Homo sapiens: one gene and its partner. The protein of the gene in region 2 interacts with the protein of the main gene of each other region in a biochemical or structural test. Each region holds a gene or a part of one and is shown on either strand. Other genes may lie near its edges.

Evidence for each region. Proteins that work in one complex are often made in the same cells at the same time.
Region 1: the proteins of STX10 (region 2) and VPS51 interact in a biophysical measurement, tested with the Homo sapiens proteins (one study listed by IntAct).

The regions. Positions count from the first base shown.
Region 1 is NC_000011.10:65,094,160-65,097,905, forward strand, and holds the start of VPS51 (vacuolar protein sorting-associated protein 51 homolog), read left to right. Parts: upstream 1-2,054; 5' UTR 2,055-2,091; coding exon 2,092-2,319; intron 2,320-2,838; coding exon 2,839-2,968; intron 2,969-3,746. UniProt on the Homo sapiens protein: Acts as a component of the GARP complex that is involved in retrograde transport from early and late endosomes to the trans-Golgi network (TGN).
Region 2 is NC_000019.10:13,148,367-13,152,112, reverse strand, and holds the start of STX10 (syntaxin-10), read left to right. Parts: upstream 1-1,737; 5' UTR 1,738-1,939; coding exon 1,940-1,974; intron 1,975-2,215; coding exon 2,216-2,385; intron 2,386-2,519; coding exon 2,520-2,614; intron 2,615-3,021; coding exon 3,022-3,084; intron 3,085-3,746. UniProt on the Homo sapiens protein: SNARE involved in vesicular transport from the late endosomes to the trans-Golgi network.

The DNA.
Region 1 (3,746 bases), on a different chromosome or scaffold from region 2:
TTTCACCATGTTAGCCAGGCTGGTCTCGAACTCCTGACCTCGGGTAATCTGCCTGCTTTGGCCTCCCAAAGTGCTGGGATTACAGGCATGAGCCACCGTGCCTAGCCTCAACTAAGCAGCCATAGATCATATGTTAAAAAATGGGCGTGACTGTGTTCCAATAAGAGTTACGGAAAATGGGATATGAATTGCATATGATTTTCAGGTGTCATGAAATGTTATTTTTTTCCCAACCATTTACAAATGAGAAAACCATTCTAGCTCACAGACCATATGAAAACAGGTGGTGAGCTGTGTTTGGCCTGCAGGATCCCTGGCAAAGAACAAGTAAACCAGTGAGTTTTTCCATTCCAACCTTCCTCCAACAGCCCTTCATAAGTAATGTTTCAAGGGCCACTTTGATGAAGAAAGTCTTTTTCTCTTTTTCCTCCATTCCAACTCTGTGTCCTAATCTGAACTCCAGATCGTTCCCTGTCTTCATGAGCTCTTCACCTTTGTGCACAGCTGCACTTTTGTCCAAGTCAGAACCCTGGGAGAGCAGCTCAGGAGGCTGAGGTGGGAGGGGAGGTCAAGGTTGGAGTGAGCCAAAGATAGCACCACTGCACTCCAGCCTGGATGAAGAGCAAAACCCAGTCTCAAAAAAAAAGGAAAAGAGAACCCTGAGAGTTATCCTCCACATTTCCACCTAACCCTTCACTCAGCACATTCCATCAGTCACTTAAGCTCTGCTGAGTCTGTCCTTTTTTTTTCAATAATAGGGGGCGGGTCTCACTACGTTGTCCAGGCCAGTATTGACCTCCTGGGCTCAATCAATTCTCCCACCTCTGCCTTCCAAAGTGCTGGGATTACAGGCGTGAGCCACTGTGCCCGGCCTTAGGGGTTCTTAAATGTGAGTGTGTATCAGAACTACTTGGGAACTTTCTAAAAAGAAGCTAGATCTGAGAGAATCCCAGAGTCTTTTTTTTTTTTTCTTGCTTTGTTGCCCAGGCTGGAGTGCAGTGGCACCATCGCAGCTCAAGCAGTTCCCCCACCTCAGCCTCCCGAGTAGCTGGGACCACAGGCGTGCGCCATCATCCTGGCTAATTTTTGTTTTGTTTTTTTTGAGACAGAGTCTCGCTCTGTCATCCAGGCTGGAGTGCAGTGGCGAGATCTAGGCTCACTGCAACCTCTGCCTACCGGGTTCAAGCGATTCTTCTGCCTCAGTCTCCGAGTAGCTGGGACTACAGGCGCGCGCTACCACACCCGGCTAATTTTTGTATTTTTAGTAGAGACGGGTGTTTCACCATATTGGCCAGGCTGGTCTCCAACTCCTGACCTTGTGATCCGCGCCCCCACCCCCCCGGCCTCCCTAAGTGCTGGGATTACAGGCGTGTGCCACCGCGCCTGGCCTGTATTTTTTTTTTATAGAGACGGAGTTTCGCCATTTTGCCCAGGCTGGTCTCGAACTCCTGGGCTCAAGCGATCCACCCGCCTCGACCTCCCCAGTGCTGGGATTACGGGAGTGCCCGGCGCAGCTCAGCGCAGAGACTTACAATGCGCCACAGATAGTCCTGAAGGCAATTCTGATGCACGTCAGAGGACCAGGCCCTAAGAAGAACTGCGCTAGAGGCGTGGTACAGAATAGTGTACATGCATTTAATCCTCGTAGCCCCCCTGTGAAGTATGTACCCCAATTTTAGGAATGGGATAAACTGAGCCACTGCCAGTGGCAGGATCCCAGGAACACTCTACTCTGGCCTCACGTCCCGCATCCGTCCATTGCATCTGGGCACATATTCCGTGGGCCCCTTGCCTGCGAGAGTGCAGGTTGGGGAGCCACTACCCGTCCCCCTTCTGGGACAGCAGCAACCCCAGGCAGTTCCACAAAATGCTTCCACCCAGGAAACTGGGGGAATTCAGGGCTCTCCCGGAACCTTTGCACCCGGGGAAGACAGGTGCGGGGGAACTCTAGTCTCGAAGGACCTAGGGCTGCAGGGGGACGTTTCACCTGAAGGACTGCCTCGTTTCAACAACAACTTTATGGCTCCCGGAAGTGCCTCCTCCCCGTCCCCTTCCTTTCCAGCCTCACGCCCGTGGGCTGCAGTTGGAACGATGGCGGCGGCAGCTGCCGCCGGGCCTAGCCCGGGGTCTGGACCTGGGGACTCCCCAGAAGGGCCCGAGGGGGAGGCTCCGGAGCGTCGGCGGAAGGCGCACGGGATGCTGAAGCTTTACTACGGCCTCTCGGAAGGGGAGGCGGCGGGACGCCCCGCGGGGCCCGACCCCCTGGACCCGACTGATCTGAACGGGGCGCACTTCGACCCGGAAGTTTACCTAGACAAGGTGTGTGCGCACGGGGAGTGGGGGGGTGCGGGGAGGGGGGAAGGGAACCAGGCCCCTGCTATATTGCTCCCCCAGATCATGCCTCCGACTTTTTGTGAGGTTCAGGAGAGCAGGTGTTCATAAGAGGACGAACCTCGGCCAGGGAGTACGAGCAGCTGAGGCGTCTGAGGGGATGTGAGTAGGACTGGACTGGCCTGAGGTGATGCGGCATCTGAGGTCTTCTGGGCTGATGTGATAGGCCCGGAATTGGGGGCGTGGCCCAAGCGTTGACAGGCGCGGGGCTGGGCTTAGGCCGAGCCCCAGGATTTCAAATGCTGACAAACACCAAACACGGTTGAACCTAGTAACCCCTGAGCTAGGCCACTTAGGGCCCCCTGCCTGGGATTCCTGACAGCCGGCGGGGGTTTGCGGGGTGGGTGGGGATCAGAGATTTCTTGCCCTGAAAGCCTATCAGCTGCAGGCAAGGCTGGGGGACATGAATGCCTCCTGACCCGAACACTAACCACCCAACTTCTTCAGCTGCGTAGAGAGTGCCCTCTGGCCCAGTTGATGGACAGTGAGACGGACATGGTGCGGCAGATCCGGGCTCTAGACAGCGACATGCAGACCCTGGTCTATGAGAACTACAACAAGTTCATCTCAGCCACAGGTGATCCCCACGGGGACACACCCTCCAAAGTCTCACAGCCCCCATTCTCCCACCTGTGTTGGGAAAACCAGCAAGGGATTTAGAGGGGGGAGACTCAGATTCCAGTCTTGTCCTGACATTATTCCATTCTCACCTCCTTTCCTTTGAGCCTTCGTTGTCAGACTACTATAGAGATAATAGCTACTCTCAGAGGGTTGTCTTAAGTACCAAAGGAGAGAAAAGACAAAAGGAGATTAGTTGTTTATTTTTTAGAGACAATGTCTTGTTCTGTCTCCCAGGCTGGAGGGCAGTAGCATGATCATGGCTCACTGCAGCCTCGACATCCCAGGCTCATGTGATCCTTCTGGATCCTACCAAAGCACTGGGATTACGGGTGTGAGTCCCTGGCCCAGCCCAAAATGAAATTTTAAAATGAAATGTATTTATCTGAAGCACTTAAAAGGCCAGGCATGGTGGCTCATGCCTGTAATCCCAGCACTTTGGGAGGCTGAAGTGGGAGGATCACTTGAGCCTAAGAGTTTAAGATTGACCTGGGAAATATAGTGGGACTCCATCTCTACAAAAAAATAAAAAATAAAAATTAGCTGGACAAGATGGCGTATGCCTGTAGTCCCAGCTACTCAGGAGACTGAGGAGGGAGGATCACATGAGCCTGGGAGGTCGAGGCTGCAGTGAGCTGTGCTTGTACCACTTCACTTCAACTTGGGCAACAGAGCAAGACCCTGTCTCAAAAAAAAGAAAGTATCTATCTGAAGAAGCATCCCAGACACTAGGCTGG
Region 2 (3,746 bases):
CGCCCTACCCTCCGCTACGCGCCGTCTCTCCAAGAAATACTAATTCCACTTCCTCCAAAAATAGGATGCAGAATTGTTCGAATGGCTCCATTCATTCCTGGTGCGGGCCCTTTAAGGGGTGGTGCGCCCCCCGCCCCCTTTCCGCCCGCACTGGCTCGCGGCGCCTTCCCGCCACCAGCGCCCGCTGACTTCCACAACTAAATTTGGACGGAGTGACGTAGGGCAGTCGCGCGGGCCGCTTCCGGTTGCCCATATTAGGACAGGGCCCGTGATCGCCTTAGCGGCCGGCGGCGGGGCTTCCGGGGGGGGGGCGCGGAGGGGCGGGGCTTTGCGCTCCGGCCACGCCCCTCCCCATCCCCGACCCGGGCAGCCGGAGCAGGCTGGAGCCCCAGGCTTCCTGACTCGCATTCCAGCCGGGTGGGGGAAGAGGAGAGTTTCACTTCCTTCCCTCCAGGGGCCAGGAAGGCGTGACGCCAGGAAAGCACCCCGCAGCGGGTAGGGGCGACCTGAGGGCTCCCAGGGACGCCATCTCCCAGAGACGCTGCAGAACGACCCTGCATACACAGGAGACGACCCGCTGAGGCCCCCTTCATCCCATCTCTCCTCTTCCCAATTATTTCCCCCATACAAGGCCCCCTCCCAGGTTATTCCTGACCCCTGCCCCACACTGATCTTCTCAGGCCTTGGGACACCCTCCCGTCCCGCCCTTCCCCCGCACGCTGGGAACTCAAAAGTTATTCCCCCCTAAAATACCCTTCCCAAACTCGTCCCCATTCAACGATGGTGCCAGACTGCGACGACCTGCCGAAGACGCAGGCCGTCCCCACCCCGCTAACCTTACCACGGAGACCCCACAATGATTTCCCCAGCCCAGGCGCTATCTCTGAGACCCCACGCAGCAACTCTGACGCGCAAGGGGGCGACCCTCCGAGGACTCCCTCAGATAACCCGCCCACCCTCCAGGGGAGACCAGGCCCCCTATCACTCAAAAAAAGTGCTTTCCCGAAGCTCCCCAACACACAGCGCCACTGTCACACATAGGGACGACCCTGAGTCCCTCCGCTGATATTCCTGGCCCCTACCCAGACGGAGACCCCACACACAGAGGGCCCCCCTGGAGACCATCCTCAAAGCCACCACCCGCTACCCCCAGGCTCGCACCCAGAAAGACTCCGCGCTTCTGAAGAAACCCACCTCCACGCACTTTCTCAAAGGTGACCTCCCCCCGCTGCTGGCATATCTGGGACCCCCTCACGACCACCTCGCCCCAAGGCGACCTCGAAGTGCCCCCAACTCCGCCACTTCTCAGGAAAGAGATTGGGAGAATGCGGCAGAACTCCCCGGAGGAGCAGGCCCGCTCCTCACCGCGCCCCCGCAGGGAGAAGGGAGGACCACCTCTCCCCCAGACCCTAGCCAAACCTGACACTCGGGACCCTGGGATGGGACGATCTCCCAGGTGCCAGCTCAGGGAGTCCATGAAAAGCTTCAACGAATCGAATGAGCCCCTTCCCCAGCCATAATACCCAGCCGCCAGAGATGAGGGAGGCTATCATTATTTACATTGCCCGTGCCTGGAAGGGAAACTGAAGTTGCGCAGGAACAATCCGAGGAACTGGGCCTTGAACCGAAATTCCGAACTCGGACCCGAATAGGCCCAGACAGAACTCCGACACCGCCCCCTACGGTGCGGCACGAGAGGGCTAAGGGGCGGGGGCATGTGCACCGGAAGCTGCCTCTGCCCACAACCAAGATGGCTGAGGAGAGGGCGGAAGTGTCCGCACGTCGGGCCTCCGAGGCTTCTCTTTCTCCCCTGGCGGTCCGGCTCTCGATGGTGGCGTGACGGGGGCGGGGGTGGCGGCGCGTTCTCCTCGGTTGGGAGGGAACCAGCCCGCGAACCCAGGCCGGGAGGGGGGTTCGGCCTGGGGGGGAAGGGACTGACATGTCTCTCGAAGACCCCTTTTTTGTAGTCCGAGGGTGAGTGACAACGACGGGGGAGGGCGGAGGGTGCTCTGTACCCAAGCCAGCCAGTGCCCGGGTGCCGGCCCCAGCGTGCCCGGCGGGCTGGGCAAGGCCGTCGGGGTGCAGAGTGGGAGGCGCACGCAGGGGTATATAGGGGTCTCCGGAGTCCCCCATGCGTTTGGGTTTGCAGTCGGGGGCAGAGGCAGGCGGGAGGACCGCCTGCCCCCAGCCGCGCCCGCCGTGCCCCTGCCCGCAGCGAGGTGCAGAAGGCGGTGAACACGGCCCGCGGGCTGTACCAGCGCTGGTGCGAGCTCCTGCAGGAAAGCGCGGCGGTCGGACGCGAGGAGCTGGACTGGACGACCAATGAGCTGCGGAATGGCCTGCGCAGCATCGAGTGGGACCTCGAGGACCTGGAAGAGACCATCGATATCCTGGGGCTTTGTGGCAGAGGGTGGCATGGGAGAGCCCATTGCGGTGGCAGCCCACCTTCGGGTAGGGCTGGACCCCTAGGGACGGGGATGATATCTGGCTCCGGCCTTGACCCTTGACTCTCAGCCCACGTATAGTGGAAGCCAACCCAGGCAAGTTCAAGCTCCCAGCCGGGGACCTGCAGGAGAGAAAGGTGTTCGTGGAGCGGATGCGAGAGGCAGTCCAGGTCAGGAAAGGTCCTGCAGGCGGGGAGTGGGGGAAGGTTTGAGTGTGTTTTTTTTTCTTTCTTTCTTTCTTTTTTTTTTTTTTTTTTGAGACAGAGCCTCGCTCTGTCGCCCAGGCTGGAGTACAGTGTTGCAATCTCGGCTCACTGCAACCTCCGCCTCCCAGGCTCAAGCGATTCTTGTGTCTCAGTCTCCTGAGTAGCTGGGACTACAGGTGCCTGCCACGATACCCGGCTAAGTTTTGTGTTTTTAGTAGAGACGGGGTTTCACCATGTTGATCAGGCTGGTCTCGAACTCCTGACCTCAGGTGATCCACCCGGCTTGGTCTCTCAAAGTGCTAGGATTACAGGCGTGAGCCACCGCGCCCAGCCTGAGTGTCTTTCCTCCCTAATGCTGTCCTTACCTCCAGGAAATGAAGGACCATATGGTCAGCCCAACAGCCGTAGCATTTTTGGAGAGGAATAACAGAGAGGTAAGCCTTCCTGACCCACCCTGCCCACCTGAGCCCCTGGGGGTAACCAAGCCAGATCCCTCTGTGCGTGTTCACCTGTCCCTTTTGCGACAGTGCCCGTCCTCTCTGTGGGCAGTTATCTTCTTGCTGTCTACCTGCCTGCACTTTCTCGGTGTGTGCACCTGAACCTCTCTATGTGTATATGTCCGTGGGTTCCTCTCTACTGTGTCCTCTGGGTCTATACTGGTTTCCTGTTGCAGGAGAGGGCTGGGGGCCTGTGTACCTATCTCCTTTCTGCTTCCATGCCATTTGTCCTGTGTGCACCTGTTTCCAGGACGCATGCCTGCCTTTTACTCTTTTTTTTTTCTTTGAGACAGAGTCTTGTTCTGTTGCCCAGGCTGGAGTGCAGTGGCTTGATCTCAGCTCACTGCAACCTCTGCCTCCTGGGTTCAAGCGATTCTCCTGCCTCAGCCTCCCAAGTAGCTGGGATTACAGGTGCTCGTCACCATGCCAGGGTAACTTCTGTATTTTTTTTTTTTTTTTTTTGAGATGGAGTTTCACTCTTGTTGCCCAGGCTGGAGTGCAATGGTGCAATCTCGGCTCACCGCAATCTCCGCCTCCTGGGTTCAAACAATTCTCCTGCCTCAGCCTCCCGAGTAGCTGGGATTATAGGCATACGCCAC